Regions from separate parts of the Homo sapiens genome. Here region 2 is linked to region 1. Evidence: fine-mapped expression QTL. Tissue or cell type: whole blood. Region 1 holds a variant in brackets; the other region holds the start of a gene. All regions are shown on one strand. Distances are between the middles of the regions.

Region 1 (8,103 bases):
GAGGTGTTGTTGAGGAACAAAAATGAAAGAAGAGGGTGCGAGTCATGTAGACATTTGTGGAAGACTGTTTTGAGCACAGGGAACAGTGCACAGTTCTTGGAGTGGAAACATGCTTCATGTATGTGTTCCAGAGACACTGGAGGCCAGTGTGGCCGGAGAAGAGCGTGTGACAGGGAGAGTGGGAGAGGGGTTGGTAGGAGGCGAGCTTAGAGATGAACAGACATGTCTCCATTGATGTACAGCCATGGGCCAGTTTCCCTAAGTGTGTCTAGCAGGTGTGTGTGCTCATACTTGTGTCCTTGTGAGTTAGTGAGGGTGCCTGTGTTTGTGCATGTGAGTGTGTGCATGTTTGTGTGTCTCCTTGTGTGTGTGTGTCTGTGTATGCTTTTGTGTGTCTATGTGTGAGTATGTATATATGTGTCTATGTCCATATATATGAGCACGTGTATTTCTGTGTGTGTCTATATATGTGTATATGAGTATGTGAGTATCTAGGTGTACGAATCTGTGTGTGTGAGACACAGTGTGTGTGTGTGGCTGTGTCTGTTTCTGTGTCTGTGTCTGTGTCTGTGTGTGAGCATATGTGTTTATATGTGTGTGTATGAGTATGTGTCTCTGGGGTGTAAGAATGTGTGTGTGTGCCTGTGTGTGACTGTGTGTGAGTCTGTGTGAGCATGTGTGTGTATGAGTATGTATCTCTCTCTGGGGTGTAAGAATGTGTGTGTGTGTGTGTATGCGCCTGTGCCTGTGTGTGTGTCTGAGCATATGTGTCTATGTGTGTGTATGAGTGTGTGTCTCTATCTGGGGTGTAAGAGTGAGTGTGCCTGTGACTGTGTGTGGTTGTGTGTCTTCATGTGTGTTTGTGTATGTGTGTTTTTGTGTGTGTATGCCTGTGCCTGTGTGTGGCTGTGTGTCTTTGTGTGTGTCTGTGTCTGTGTGTCTGTGTGTATGAGTGTGTGTGCCTGTGCCTGTGTGTGGCTGTGTGTGTCTTTGTGTGTTTCTGTGTGAGTATGTGTGTCTATGTGTGTGTATGAGTGTGTCTGTCTCTGGGGTGTAAGAATGTGTGTGTGAGACAGTGTGTGTGCCTGTGCCTGTGCCTGTGTGTGTCTGTGTGTGTCTGTACTATGTGTGTCTGTGTGGCGGGAGGTTAGGGCTGAAACCAAGCCATCCTTGTGTTTGGGGATGGAGGCTGTGTTCCTAACTCATTGCCCTCAACTCTGCTAACCCTCCCTTCAGGCAAGTGCCTGTGTGGGCTGCACTGCCCCTGGTCAGGCAGGCCATGGTAGGAGTGGCCCGGCATGGCCCCGGAGCCCTTCCTGCCCCTCTCTGATATTGGACCCTTCCCTCATATGACTCCCTAGGGCTGAACAAGACATCCTCTTTCTCCTGCGAAGCCCATAACGCCAAGGGGGTCACCACATCCCGCACAGCCACCATCACAGGTGACAGAGTTGGGAGGTGGGGAGCTGGGCGTCAGAGGGTGGGGTTTGGGTCCGGGGTCAGAGTGGGGGCAGAGAGCAGGGTAGGGAGCTTTGAGCAAAGGCTCCCCAGGGTCAATCTCTCCCGTTTGTCCACAGTGCTCCCCCAGCAGCCCCGTAACCTCCACCTGGTCTCCCGCCAACCCACGGAGCTGGAGGTGGCTTGGACTCCAGGCCTGAGCGGCATCTACCCCCTGACCCACTGCACCCTGCAGGTGAGACTCCCAAACTTGGTTCATTTCAGTCTCAGGCCTCCTTCCACCCACATCCACAACCCCCATCCTCTCCCTGGGAACCCACCACTTCTCGGCCACTGTTGAGAAGCAGTAGAGCCTGGGGGGTTAAGCCAGATGTCCTGGGTTCGAATCCTAGCTCCACCACCTTCTGGCTGTGTGACCTTGGGTAGGTGGCTTAATCTGTCCGGGGCTCAGCTCTCTTGTCTACAAAATGGACATAATGGTAGTGCCTACCTGGTATGCTTAGTGTGAAAATTCAATGAGTGAATGCAAATTACCAACTTAAAATGGTATATAGAACATAGGAAACAAATTTAACAAAATTGGCCAGGCGCGGTGGCTCACACCTGTAATCCCAGCACTTTGGGAGGCCGAGGTGGGCGGATCACTTGAGGTCAGGAGTTCGAGACCAGCCTGGCCAACATAGTGAAACCACATTTCTACTAAAAATACAAAAATTAACTGGGCCTGGTGGGACGCACTTGTAGTCCCAGCTACTGGGGAGGCTGAGGCAGGAGAATTGCTTGAACCTGGGAGGCGGAGGTTGCAGTGAGCCAAGATCGTGCCACTGCTCTCCAGCCTGGGTGACAGAGCGAGACTCTGTCTCAAAAAAAAAAAAGAAACAACAACAAAAAAAATTTAACAAAATGAAAATGATCAGCTGTTTTAATTATTTTCAGTATTAGTGATGTTAACTCTAGCCAGAGTGGGAGCCCTGAGACAGCAGAGTCTGGAGCCATTTCTGTCACCACTGGATACCCAGAACCCTCCACTTCTCCCATCCCAGCCCTGGCCACTCTGTGTGGTCACTGTCTGGGGATGGGTCTGTCCCCTACTGGAATGTGAGCTCTGACAGGGCAGGGCTGGAGCTGTCCCAGTCACCACTGGCTCCTCATTCTTGCCCAGCACAGGACCAGACATAGAGTAGGGAATATTCGCTAGAAGGATATATTACAACCCAGATGAGCTAGACCCAGCCTCTGCCCTCAAGTTGCTCCTAGAATAAGAAAACCAAAACCAGGCCAGGTGTGGTGGCTTACACCTGTAACCCCAGCACTTTGGGAGGCCAAGGCTGGTGGATCACCTGAGGTCAGGAGTTCGAGACCAGCCTGGCTAACATGGTGAAACCCCATTTCTACTAAAAATACAAAAAATTAGCCGGGTGTGGTGGCACACACCTGTAATCCCAGCTACTCAGGAGGCTGAGGCAGGAGAATCCCTTGAACCCTGGAGGCAGAGGTTGCAGTGAGCCGAGATCGTGCCATTGCACTCCAGCTTGGGTAACACGAGCGAACTTCCGTCTCAAGAAAAAAAAAAAAAGAAAGAAAGAAAGAAGAAAACCAAAACCAAAACAAAACTCACAGATCTGTAAATATAAGGCCTAATTCTGGTCTGAAGTTCTCTGAGATTAGAAAGTTGGAGATGGGGGGTGGACAGTGCCTATGATGGTAGATGACAGTAATGAAGAATGACCAATTTCTACTGAGTGTCCGCTGTGCACCGGGTCTTGCATTAACGCACACCTGCTCGTGTGTTTGTGAAGGAGGGTCTATGGATACACCCATTTTCCAGATGAAGAAACTAAGGCTCAGAGTGGTTAACCAGATTGTCCAAGGTCACATCAAACCCATGTCATGCTCCTAACCTCCTTAGAAACTGTTTTTTGTTTTTTCTTTTCTTTTTTTTTTGAGACAGAGTCTCGCTCTGTTACCCAGACTGGAGTGCTGTGGCGTGATCACGGCTTATTGCAACCTCCGCCTCCTAGGTTCAAGCAATTCTCTTGCCTCAGCCTCCTGAGTAGCTGGTATTACAGGCGCCCACCACCACGCCCAGCTAATTTTTGTATTTTTAGTAGAGACAGGGTTTCACCATGTTGGTCAGGCTGGTCTCGAACTCTTGACCTCAAGTGACCCGCCCACCTCGGCCTCCCAAAGTGCTGGGATTACAGGCGTGAGGCACCGCGCTGGGCCCTGAGAAAATGTTTAGAGTCAGTGCTTGATTAAACAGGAATTGTCTTATACTTACATGCTCTGAGCACAACCCCATCTGCTTGTCGTTTTAAACCTAGAAAATAGTGGCTATTGGCTGGGCATGATAGCTCACGCCTGTAATCCCAGCACTTCGGGGGGCTGAGGCAGGTCTGTACAAAAAATTCAAAAAAATTAGCTCAGTGTGGTGGCACACACCTGTAGTCCCAGATACTCGGGAGGCTGAAGTGGGACAATCACCTGAGCCTGGCAGTCAAGGCTACAGTGAGGCAGGATTGAACCTCTGCTCTCCAGCTTGGGTGACAGAGTAAGACTCTGTCTGAGAAAAAAAAAAACAAAAAACAGTGGCTATTAATCTTCCCGTTTTCAAGGTGAGGAACTGAGGCCCAGAGAGGGGCCCCCTCTCTGGGCCTCAGTTCCTCCCATCCTCCTCCCCTCCCCGGGGCTAGAAAGCCGAAGCTGAGATTCAATCCCAGAGGCCAGCTGGATTTGGGAGACCTCAAATGCCAGGTCAGGCATAAGTTGCACTCTACCCACATCACCAAGTGTCCCCAGGAAAGCAGAAGTGTGTCCTCTTCCCTTTCCAGGTCTCACTTCCTGCTGCACATGGGCTAGGGCTGA[A/C]GAGTTCCAGTGGGAGGGTCACAGCCGTCCCAGGGAAAAGAGAAGTGGGAGCAGGCATGGGGAGACCAACTGTCTGTACCCATCTCCTCTCTGTCCTGGTAGAGGTTCCTCTTCCTGTCTGTCACTGCAGGTCAGAGAGCAGGCATGGTGACAGCCTCACCCCCTCCTCGTACCCACCATCTGCCCCCACTCCTCCCCAGGTCTCATGGTGGTGTCATCTCCCTCCATGGGGGCTGTGTGACTTTGGGCAAGTTGCTGAACCTCTCTGGGCCTTGGCTTCCCTGTCTGTAAAATGGGGATGAGAAAAGAAATTGACCCCATAGGGTGGTAGTGCGAAGTCAATGAGTTCATCCAGTAATGTGCTTGACAGAGAGCTTGGTACATATTTGGCACTCAAGAAATATTTGCTAGGCCGGGTGCCATGGCTCACACCTGTAATACTAGACCTTTGGGAGGCCGAGGCAGGTGGATCGCTTGAGCCCAGGAGTTTGAGACCTGCCTGGCCAACATGGTGAAACGCCATCTCTCCAAATAATTAAAAAATTAGGTGGGGCTGTCATTACACCACTGCACTCCAGCTTGTGTGACAGAGTGAGACCCTGCCTAAAAAAAAGAAAAAAGAAAAAGAAAGAAAGAAAGAAAACAAACGTTAGCTGTTGATAATTATAATGTGCAAAGCAGTTTATATGCATCATGTCATTAAACCTTATACCCTGACAAGTAAGAACTGTGATGCCCATTTTCCAGAGACAGAAACTGAGACTCAGAGAAGTTAAGACACTCACTCTAGGTCACACAGCAAACAACATCCAACACAGGACTTAGATCCAAGGAATCTGGCTTTAGAGCCCACACCCTGTGGCAGTAAACTCCTTCCTGACATACTGTGTGGCTGTATGGCTGGAGTCTCCAGGGTGAAGGGGAAGCCCTTGGCTGCACCATTCCTGAGGCGTGGCTGTGAATTGTGTGGTTATGGGGGTTTTGTGGTTCCATGTGGCAGGGCTATACAGATGTGTACACCAGTGGTGGCCCCCTCCACTCTGAGTGTGCCATTCCTCGGGTGGAATAGGTATGGGAACCTGTGCCGCTATGCAGAGCTTGACACTTGTTGCCAGGAAACACACATAAAATAATAAGTGACAGGCCGGGCACGGTGGCTCGTGCCTGTGATCCCAGCACTTTGGGAGGCTGAGCGGGCAGATCACCTGAGGTAGGGAGTTTGAGACCAGCCTGACCAACATGGAGTAACCCTGTCTCTACTAAAAATACAGAATTAGCCGGGTGTGGTGGTGCATGCCTGTAATCCTAGCTACTCAGGAGGTTGAGGCAAGAGAATCACTTGAACCTGGGAGGCGGAGGTTGCAGTGAGCCGAGATCATGCCATTGTACTCCAGCCTGGGCAACAAGAGCGAAACTCCATCTCAAATAAATAAATAAATAAATAGATAGATAGATAGATAGATAGATAGATAGATAGATAGATAATAAATGACAGTATGCACAAGCAGTCTTCTAAATGCTTACATGCCCCAATTCAGTCAACCCTGTGAAGTGGGGAGCCACTGTCATCCCATTTTACAGGTGAGAAGACTGAGGCACACAGCTAGGGAATGATAGAGCCTGGATTTGAGCCCCAGATCCAGCATCCGTGCTCCTCAGCACTAGGCTAAACTGCCTCTGTGCACAGACAAGAGGTATTGTTACCATTACTGATATTCTTACCGCCAGTAGAGCAAAGACTCTGGGGACAGGATGGGGTTTAGGTCCCAGCTTCATCAGTGACAAACTGATGACCTTGAACAAGTGATTCCGTCTCTCTGGGCCTCAGTGTTGTCATCTGTACAGTGGGAATAAGCATAATGCTTACCACAGGACAACAGGATTGATGTGAGGGCCAAATGAATTCAGATTTGTCAAGGGCTAAGAAAGGCACTCAGTACATGTTGGACGTGTTTTATCTTTTTTTATTAAGATAATATATAACATAGTCAGGTGAGGTGGCTCACGCCTGTAATCCCAGCACTTTGGGAGGCCGAGGCAGGTGGATTACCTGAGGTCAGGAGTTTGAGACCAGCCTGGGCAACATGGTGAAACCCTTTCTCTACACAGAATAAAAAAAAAGCCGGGTGTGGTAGCTCACACCTGTAATCCCAGCACTTTGGGAGGCCGAGGGGGGCGGATCACTTGAGATCAGGAGTTCAAGACCAGCCTGACCAACATGATGAAACCTCGTCTCTACTAAAAATACAAAAAAGTTAGCCAGGCATGGTGGCACATGACTGTAGCCCCAGCTACTCGAGAGGCTGAAGCAGAAGAATTACTTGAGCCCAGGAGGCGGAGGTTGCAGTGAGCCGAGATTGTACCACTGCACTCCAACCTGAGTGACAGAGCAAGACTCTGTCTAAAAAAAAAAAAAAAAAAAAATTAGTCAAGCATGGTTGCTCACGCCTGTAATCCCATCTACTTGGGAGGCCGAGGCATGAGAATTGCCTGAACCTGGGAGGCGGAGATTGCAGTGAGCCGAAATCACGCCACTGCACTCCAGCTCAGGTGATGAAATGAGACTCATAGGCCGGGCACGGTGGCTCACACCTGTAATCCCAGCACTTTGAGAGGCTGAGGCGGGCGGATTGCCTGAGGTCAAGAGTTTGAGACCAGCCTGACTAACATGGTGAAACGCTGTCTCTACTGAAAATACGGCAATTAGTCGGGCGTGGTGGTACGCGTAGTCCCAGCTACTTGGGAGGCTGAGGCAGAAGAATTGCTTGAACCTAGGAGACGGAGGTTGCAGTGAGCCAAGATCTCACCACTGCACTATAGCCTGGGCGACAGAGCAAGACTCCCTCTCCAAAAAAAGGAAAAAAAAAAAAAAAGAAAAAGAAATGAGATGTATAACATGCATAATCTTCAGTGTACCTCTAGATCAAGCTCGTCTAACACATGTGGCCCAGGATGGCTTTGAATGCGGCCCAACATAAGTTCGTAAACTTTCTTAAAACATTATGAGATTTGTTTGTGATTTTTTTTTTTAACGCATCAGCTATCGTTAGTGTTAGCGTATTTTATGTGTGGCCCAAGACAATTCTTCTTCCACTGTGGTCCAAGAAAGTCAAAAGATTGGACACCTTTGAGATTGTTTAACACACATATTCACCATGTAACCACCATCCAAATCAAGACACAGACCCTTCCAGTCCCCAAGAAGTCTCCCTCAGGCCCCAGAGATGGCCACCCTTCTGCTTCTAGAACATTGCTTTTGCCTGTAGTATAATGTCATATAAATGGGGCCTCACAGTATCGTGCTATTATTATGATGATCATTACTATTATTTGAGACAGAGTCTTGCTCTGTTACCCAGGCTGGAGTGCAGTGGTGTGATCTTAGCTCACTGTAACCTCTGCCTCCCAGGTTCAAGTGGTTCTCCTATCGCAGCCTCCCGAGTAGCTGGGATTACAGGCGAGCGCCACCACATCCAGCTAATTTTTTACATTTTTGGAAGAGATGGGGTTTCACCACGTTGGCCAGGCTGGTCTTGAACTCCTAACCTCAAGTGATCGCCCACCTTGGCCTCCCAAAGTGCTGGGATTACAGGCGGGAGCCACCGTGCCCAGTCTATTTGCGTTATTATTGTCATCACACTATTATTATCGGTGCTGACCACCCGCCATGCACTGTGGCATCCTTTGGGCATAACTACACTTAATCTTTAAACAATCCTGTAAGGCACTTGATCCTCTAAGGCCCCGTGTGCCCAAGGAAAAAACTGAGGCTCAGAGAGG
Region 2 (8,097 bases), 41 kb before region 1:
CACTCTGTCACCCAGGCTGGAGTGCAGTGGCACAATCTCAGCTCACTGCAAGCTCCACCTCCCAGGTTCACGCCATTCTCCTGCCTCAGCCTGCCGAGTAGCTGGGACTATAGACGCCTGACACCACGCCCGGCTAATTTTTTGTATTTTTAGTAGAGATGGGGTTTCACCGCGTTAGCCAGGATGGTCTTGATCTCCTGACCTCGTGATCTGCCCGTCTCGGCCTCCCAAAGTGCTGGGATTACAGGCGTGAGCCACCACGCCCGGCAAGAACTTTTAAGTTTTCTTATCTATAGGATGTTGCAATCATCATCTTTAAACATTAGACATGGAATCTTTATAATAATCTTGCCATATATATATATATATATATATTTTTTTTTTTTTTTTTTTTTTTTTTTTGACACTGAGTCTCACTTTATCGCCCAGGCTGGAGTACAGTGGCACAATCTTGGCTCACTACAACCTCCACCTCCTGGGTTCAAGTGATTCTCCTGCCTCAGCCACCCCAGTGGCTGGGGACTACAGGCGTGCACCACCACATCCAGTTAATTTTTTTTTTTTTTTTGAGACGGAGTCTCGTTCTGTCGCCCAGGCTAGAGTTCAGTGGGGAGATCTCAGCTCACTGAAACCTCCGCCTTGTGGGTTCAAGCAAGCAATTCTCTGCCACAGCCTCCCGACTAGCTGGGATTAGAAGTGCCCACCACCACGTCTGGCTAATTTTTGTATTTTTAGTAGAGACGGGGTTTCATCATCTTGGCCAGACTGGTCTTGAACTCCTGACCCCGTGATCCACCCACCTCGGTCTCCCAAAGTACTGGGATTACAGGCGTGAGCCACTGCGCCTGGCCGGTTAATTTTTATATTTTCAGTAGAGACAGGATTTCACCACGCTGGCTAGGCTGGTCTCAAACTCCTGACCTCAGGTGATCCACCCGCCTTGGCCACTGTGCCTGGTCAACAGTCTTTCTATTTTTATTCTAGGCTGGAGACCTTTGTCTCAAAAACAAAACGAGAATGCTCCCTGGAGTCTGTACTGATCCCTCTTCCCTCCCACCGTAGATTAGTTTTCTCCTTGCATTTAAAAAGACCTTTCTGGCTGGCATCCAGTGAATGAATTGTGGAGGAGGGGGAGAAGGAGAGAGGAAGCAGGTAGCTCAGTGGGGAAGCTACTGCAAAATCCTGGCAAGCAATGACAGTACCTTGAATCAGGGCTGGTGTCAGTTGGATCAGGGTGGTAGGGAAAGGAGGAAATGGATAAATTTGGAATGTATTTGGAGGTAGAGCCAGCAGGATTTGCTGACAAACTGGGTTTAAAGTCAAAGAGAGAAATCAAGGTTAAACCTGACAAATAAAAACAGATGTGGTCTCAGGCGAGTAGAGACATTATGCAGAAAGACTATTGCATCAGGGGGAAAGATGGCTGTAAAAACAATGAACAAGACCAGAATCTGATAACCCAGAAGGATGTGTTGTCTAATGAAACTAATTTTTTCCCCTCCTCCTATTTTTTTTTTGAGACGGAGTTTCACTCTTGTTGCCCAAGCTGGAGTGCAATGGCGCGATCTCGGCTCACTGCAACCTCCGCCTCCCGGATTCAAGCGATTCTCCTGCCTCAGCCTCCCTGAGTAGCTGGGATTACAGGCATGCACCACCACACCTGGCTAATTTTGTATTTTTAGTAGAGACGGGGTTTCACCATGTTGGCCAGGCTGGTCTCAAACTCCTGACCTCAGGTGATCTGCCCACCTCAGCCTCCCAAAGTACTGGGATTGCAGGCATGAGACACCGCGCCCGGCCTCTCCTATATTTTGTTGTCATCAGCAAGTGAAAAGATGGTGATACCTTTTACAGAGGTAAGGAAGGAGGTGAGAGAAAGTATTCCCAGATGGGGTGGGAAGCTGGTACAGCCCACTTTGCAGGAGGTGGGGGAATCGGGAATTCTTTTATATCCATGAAGTTTGAGATGTCTGTTAGCTCTCCCAGGGGTAGAACAGAGGGAGCAGATAGGCTCAAGGTTGGATTTGGAACGTCCTAGAAACCTTCCAGAACAAGGCAAAGGAGGAACTGAGAACTGGCATTTACTTCATAGCAAGAGCGTATGAGCCTCCCCACCCCTCCTCCTTTGGCTTCAGGGCACCCCTGGAATGTTAGAGGCTAGAATCAATGCTAAAGAAGACCACAGTCAAGGATTCCCCAGACTCCAGGGAGCACTCTGGCTATGCTCTTGAGAGAAAGGGCTCTGGACTAGAATACAAATTGCAAGATTGCAGGCCGGGGGCAGTGGCTCATGCCTGTAATCCCAGCACTGTGGGAGGCCGAGGTGGGTAAATTGCCTGAGGTCAGGAGGTCGAGACCAGCCTGGCCAACATGGTGAAACCCCAACTCTACTAAAAATACAAAAGTTAGCTGGGAGTGGTGGTGGGCGCTTGTAATCCCAGCTACTCAGGAGGCTGAGGCAGGAGAATCACATGAACCCAGGAGGCAGAGATTGCAGTGAGCCAAGATCGTGCCACTGCACTCCAGCCTGGGCAACAGAGCGAGACCCTGTCTCAAAAAAAGATTGTGAAAATTCTAAGAATCTAATTTTTTTTTTTTTTTTTTTTTTTTTGAGACGGAGTCTCGCTCTGTCGCCCAGGCTGGAGTGCAGTGGCGGGATCTCGGCTCACTGCAAGCTCCGCCTCCCGGGTTCACGCCATTCTCCTGCCTCAGCCTCCCAAGTAGCTGGGACTACAGGCGCCCGCCACTACGCCCGGCTAATTTTTTGTATTTTTAGTAGAGACGGGGTTTCACCATTTTAGCCAGGATGGTCTCGATCTCCTGACCTCGTGATCCGCCCGCCTCAGCCTCCCAAAGAATCTAATATTTTAAAACTCCAGCATATGCAACTCAAAGCTCATCTAATTATACACTTAAGAGTTATGTATTTCATTGTATATAAGATACCTTGAGGAACAAAAAGTATCTGTAAACAAATACTGAGCTCTAGCTACTGATATGCATGCTGATGTATTTGGGAGTGAAGTGTACTGGTATCTGCAACTGACTTTGAAATGCTTAAAAAAAAATCAATGGATAGGCAAAATGAACAGATATGTAATGAAAAAAGGGCCAGGCACAGTGGCTCATGCCTGTAATCCCAGCACTTTGGGAGGCTGAGGTGAGAAGATCACCTGAGGTCAGGAGTTTGAGACCAGCCTGGTCAACATGGCAAAAACCCCGTCTCTACTAAAAATACAAAAAATAGCCAGGCATGGTGGTGCACGCCTGTAATCGCAGCTACTTGAGAGGCTGAAGCAGGAGAATTGCTTGAACCCGGGAGGCAGAGGTTGCAATGAGCCAAGACTGTATGCTATTGCACTCCACTCTGGGCAACAGAGTGAGACTCTATCTCAAACAAAAAAAGAATAGATAGGTAACAAAGAAAGGATAATAAAATGGTGGAATCTGATGGGTATACAGGTGTTCACTGTATGTTTGAAATTTTAATATTTTTATAATAAAATACGAAATCAAAATGCAAAGCAAACAAAGTAACTGCCCTGCTGAAAACCCCTCCAGACAGCTTCCGTTTGCAATAGAAATAAAATGCAGTCTTTTCCAAGACCTTGCAAGATGGCCCCTGCAGACTTCATGAATCTTATCTCCTACATTCAATCTTTGAAAATATAACAAATATTTATTGAGTGCCTACTGTGTGTCAGGCACTGCACTATATGTTGGGGATACAGCAGTGAACCAAACCTACAATAATTCATGCACAAATGGTTCTAACATTCTTCCTTCTCAAGAAGCCCATTCCCCTGGCAGGCCTTCTCACTTCCTGAAATTGTTTTCATCTCATCTTCATCTGCATGTGGATATGAGCTCAGGAAGGCCAGAGCCCTTCTCTCCATCGCTCATAGCTGCACCCTCGGGTCTAGAACAAGGTCTTGTTTATAGTAAGACCTCAATAACAGTTAGTTGCAGAAATATTAGCTAACATCTATTTAGTGCTTGTTACATGTGCACCTGCGTCTGCTTTAAATGGTGTGCACAGATGTACTATTTAATCCTGAAAACTAGCCCCATTTTACAAGGCTAACAGAGGCACAGAGGAATTAGGCTGTGAATTCAAGCAGTCTGGCTTCAGCCATCACGGTCCTAACCGCTCTGCAAACTGCCTCTAAACGAATGAATGAATGACTCAATCATTCTAACTGGCCCAAGTCAAAATATTAACTCTGCCACTCAGCCAAGTTGACCTGGGGCCAACCGATTTATCTCCCTGGACTTCAGATTGTTTATCCTTAAAGGTCAAGTCCTTCCTCTCAGTTCGTGAAGATGTAAGATGCTGGAGAAAATTGACTCAAAGACACCCCATACACGCACGCACACAGGAACCCACATCCGAACAATGAGCGAGGTAGGAGCTGGGGAGAGTGGCGCGGGGTCACCGCCAGATGCGGGGTGTGGCAACCTCCAGGCGGCCAAAGTCTCTGACTTCCAGGTTCTTCTGTTTGCTTACTCCCTATCCGGGGGCCCAAGGCGCTGTCTCCGCCGCCCAAGCCCCGCGTAAACCTGGGTGACCTCGGAGACATCCGTTGGAGCATGAGTTCCCGACATCAGGCGGCGGCGGTGGTCCGGGAGAAACCCGGCGGCGGGGAGATAAGCCTGCCCAGGAGGCAGGGGGCTGGGCTAGCTGCCCCGCCCCGCGCCTGACTTCGTTGGGGAGGGAGACGCCCGGCTCCCGCCCCTAACTAGCCCAGCCGCGCGGAGCGCCTGGGAGAGGAGAAGGAGCCGACCTGCCGAGATGGAGGCGACCGGCACCTGGGCGCTGCTGCTGGCGCTGGCGCTGCTCCTGCTGCTGACGCTGGCGCTGTCCGGGACCAGGGCCCGAGGCCACCTGCCCCCCGGGCCCACGCCGCTACCACTGCTGGGAAACCTCCTGCAGCTACGGCCCGGGGCGCTGTATTCAGGGCTCATGCGGGTAAGGGGCTCTGGGGACGTCCTGGCTAGGGGTGGGAGGATTCCTGGGAGAGAAACCCGAGTGCCAGGGTGAGGGGCTTTTCGGGTATCCTAGGGAGGAGGCAGGGGCAGGGGTCCCAAGGCAAAGGGGCTGCTGCTGTCCTGGGGTTGGGGGCAGGAGCAGGTTGTCCAGGGCTGAGAAGGGGAGAGGTGCCCGGGAGAGAGGATCGTGGGGTGGGGGACCAGGGCTAGGAGGGGCAGAGACCTCTGCCTACAGAATCCTGGGAAGGTGATGGGCAGGGACCGAGGCTGAAAGAGACAGGAGTCCTCCAGCCGAGGAGAAGCTGATGCAGCTGGGCTTGTCCCAGAGGGAGAGGTAGCTGGAGCCATACAGGTGGGGCATGCTGAAGAGGGCACAAAGAAGAAAAGGGGGAGGCGTCCCTGCGGGGAGTTGGAGGCAGAGAAGAGGCTGGAGGGTTGCAGGCTCAGAGAGGGGGTCCCGCTGAAGGAATCTGCCAGCAGAGAATGCAGGATGGGAGGATGGGTGGAGCTCAGTTGGGAGTTCCTGGGACTGGGGAGGAAGGAGAGCAAGAAAGAAGGCAGAGGCAGCCCCAGCCTTAGGGGATAGCAGGTGGGAGTGGGCAGAGGCCTGAAGTTTCCCATTCAAAAGGATTCTGGGTGACTTCAAGGACGTAGAAAAAAGGGTGGGGTCTTGGGGGAGAGATGGGGCGGATACTCAGCAGTGTCTGCTCCAGAATTTCAGGGTTTTGTGGTGACTGAAAGGGGTGGCTGGATATTTGGGGGGCAGGGAGGGCCCTAAGGAATTAAGGGAGACCCAAACTGCTTCTGGATTGCCCAGCGTCAGAGGTTAGGGTTCAGCAGGAAGCAAGGGAACGACAGGAAGTTGGGGGATGCCACTGAAGGATGTACTGGGGGAGGAGGCCCGGGAGCCTAGTGCAAAAAGAGAACTGAGCCTCAGCTATTTCTGCTGGGATGGGGGCAGGTTCCTGGTAGAGGGCGTAGAAGCTAGACCCGGTGGCTCCTCAAGTGACAGGGGCCATGATGGAGACACCTTGGATCGAAGAGGTCACAGCACCCTCCTCTTTCTTCCTCCCTACCCCCAGCTGAGTAAGAAGTACGGACCGGTGTTCACCATCTACCTGGGACCCTGGCGGCCTGTGGTGGTCCTGGTTGGGCAGGAGGCTGTGCGGGAGGCCCTGGGAGGTCAGGCTGAGGAGTTCAGCGGCCGGGGAACCGTAGCGATGCTGGAAGGGACTTTTGATGGCCATGGTAAGTCAAGGGCTGCTAGGCCCTCCGCTCACAGCCTGCCACCACTTACTGGTGTGTGACCTTTGCACATGGCTTAGTCCCTCTGTTGCCTCATCTGTCAAATGGAGTGATAACAGTGCCCATCAGCCGGGTGCAGTGGCTAGTGCCTGAAATCCCAACACTTTGGGAGGCGGAGGTGGGTGGATCACTTGAGGTCAGGAGTTCGAGACCAGCCTGGCCAACATGGTGAAACCCTGTCTCTACTAAAAATATAAAAATTAGCTGGGCATGGTGGTGCGTACCTGTAATCCCAGATACTTGGGAGGTTGAGGCAGGAGAATCGCTTGAACCCGGGAGGCAGATGTTGCAGTGAACCAAGACTGTGCCACTGCACTCCAGTCTGGGCAACAGAGTGAGCCTCCATCTCAAACAAACAAACAAAAAGCAGTGCCCATCATGTAGGATTGAGTGATTGAGTGAGGACTGAGCCTTGTGCAAAGTGAGCACTCACTAATCACCAGGTTGTAGTATCAGTGATAACCATCAATGATCCAGGTAAAGCCCTGAGGGTTCAGAAAGATGCCGGAGCGCTTTCAAGGTGCTGGGGATTGGTGGGCAAGCCCTCGAATAATAGAAACAGTTCTCTGTATTACAACAGAAAGCAGGAGGCCCATGCTGGGTGCTGCCAGGAACTCAGTAGTAACTAAGACAGCACCGGTGCTGCTTCCCCAGCGCACCTAGGCCAGTGGGGAAACAGACTCACCACACAGTCCCAGCCCAGAGTGGTCAGGGCCAAGATGGGGAAGCACGGGGAGAAAGGTCAGGGTGGGATGGGGAGGGGTCAGGGCAAGAGGGGTCAGGGCCAGGCTGAGGGAAGCCCTGGGACTGTAGGAATTTAGAGGAGGTACCTGACCCGGCATGTTTGGTGAGGGAGCTTCAGGAAGTCTTCCTGGAAGAGAGGCTGTCGGAGCTGAGACTCATAAGATGAGTGGGGAGGGTGTTCCAGGCAGAAAGACCAGCACCTACAAAAGCATGACTTTGAGAGAAGCATTCATCCATTCAACTGATGAATTTTCAGACTGGGCACGCTGGCTCATGCCTGTAATCCCAGCACTTTGGAAGGCTGAATGGGGAGGATGACTTGAGCCTAGGCATTTGTGACAAGCCTGGGCAACATGGTGAGACCCTGCCTCCACAAAACAAACAAACAAACAAAAAATCATTATACCTGGTACCATGGGTACCAGGTACATAGAAATGACTCAGGCAGATATGGTGTCCTCTCCTACTGTGGGAGAGGCGGGCTTATACTGCAGTAAGACAATAGAGGGAGGGAATATAATCCTAAAATGAGAGGTACAGATTTGAGAGCAAACACAGGGCACAGGCATATGTACGAGGGTAAAGAGGGAATCAGGGAAGGCTTCTCAGAGAAGGTGACATTTAAGCCGGGACATGAAGGATGAACGAGTTAGTTCACCAAGGATGGGATGGAAAGGGGTGAGAGTGATGGAGGCAGAGGGAACTGCAGGATCATAGGCCTAGACAGGGGATCCTGACGCCCTTGAGGAAGTGAGAGAAGACCAGCGCAGTCGTAGTGGGTTAAGTAACAAAGCTGAGAAGCCAGGGAAATCCCTGGTCATGCAGGGCCTGTGAGTCACGTCAGAGTGTTTGGGCTTTTGTTTTTCCTGGGAGCAGTCGATTTTAAGCAGGGAACAGCTGTATTCAGAGTTGGGAAGATCCTGTGGTTGCTGCCTGAAGGGGATGAAACTGGAGGCTAGGAGCCCAGGGTGATAGGGAGGATCCAGGGTGATGGGGAGGCTGGGAGGTCCGCGGTGATGGACCAGGGCTGGGGCCAGGGGATGGGGAGGAAGGAGTAAT

The links. PIP is the estimated chance that this variant, and not a neighbour inherited with it, causes the effect.
Region 2: CYP2S1 starts here. The variant in region 1 is fine-mapped to the expression of CYP2S1 in whole blood (TOPMed, PIP 0.93).

The regions. Positions count from the first base shown.
Region 1 is chr19:41,229,606-41,237,708 of GRCh38, forward strand. AXL (AXL receptor tyrosine kinase) reads left to right here. Exons shown (of 20, transcript NM_021913.5): 5 at 1,362-1,442; 6 at 1,578-1,693. Among named protein-coding and RNA genes, the nearest start is that of AXL, 14 kb to the left of the region's middle. The variant A/C (reference allele first, on the strand shown) is at 4,324.
Region 2 is chr19:41,188,473-41,196,569 of GRCh38, forward strand. CYP2S1 (cytochrome P450 family 2 subfamily S member 1) reads left to right here and starts at 4,747. Exons shown (of 9, transcript NM_030622.8): 1 at 4,747-4,969; 2 at 6,072-6,237. The coding sequence starts at 4,793. LOC124904790 reads right to left here and starts at 4,580. Exons shown (of 3, transcript XM_047439802.1): 1 at 4,508-4,580. The coding sequence starts at 4,580. It also overlaps the pseudogene RN7SL718P. RefSeq lists enhancers at 4,273-4,773, 6,084-6,596 and a silencer at 4,686-4,775.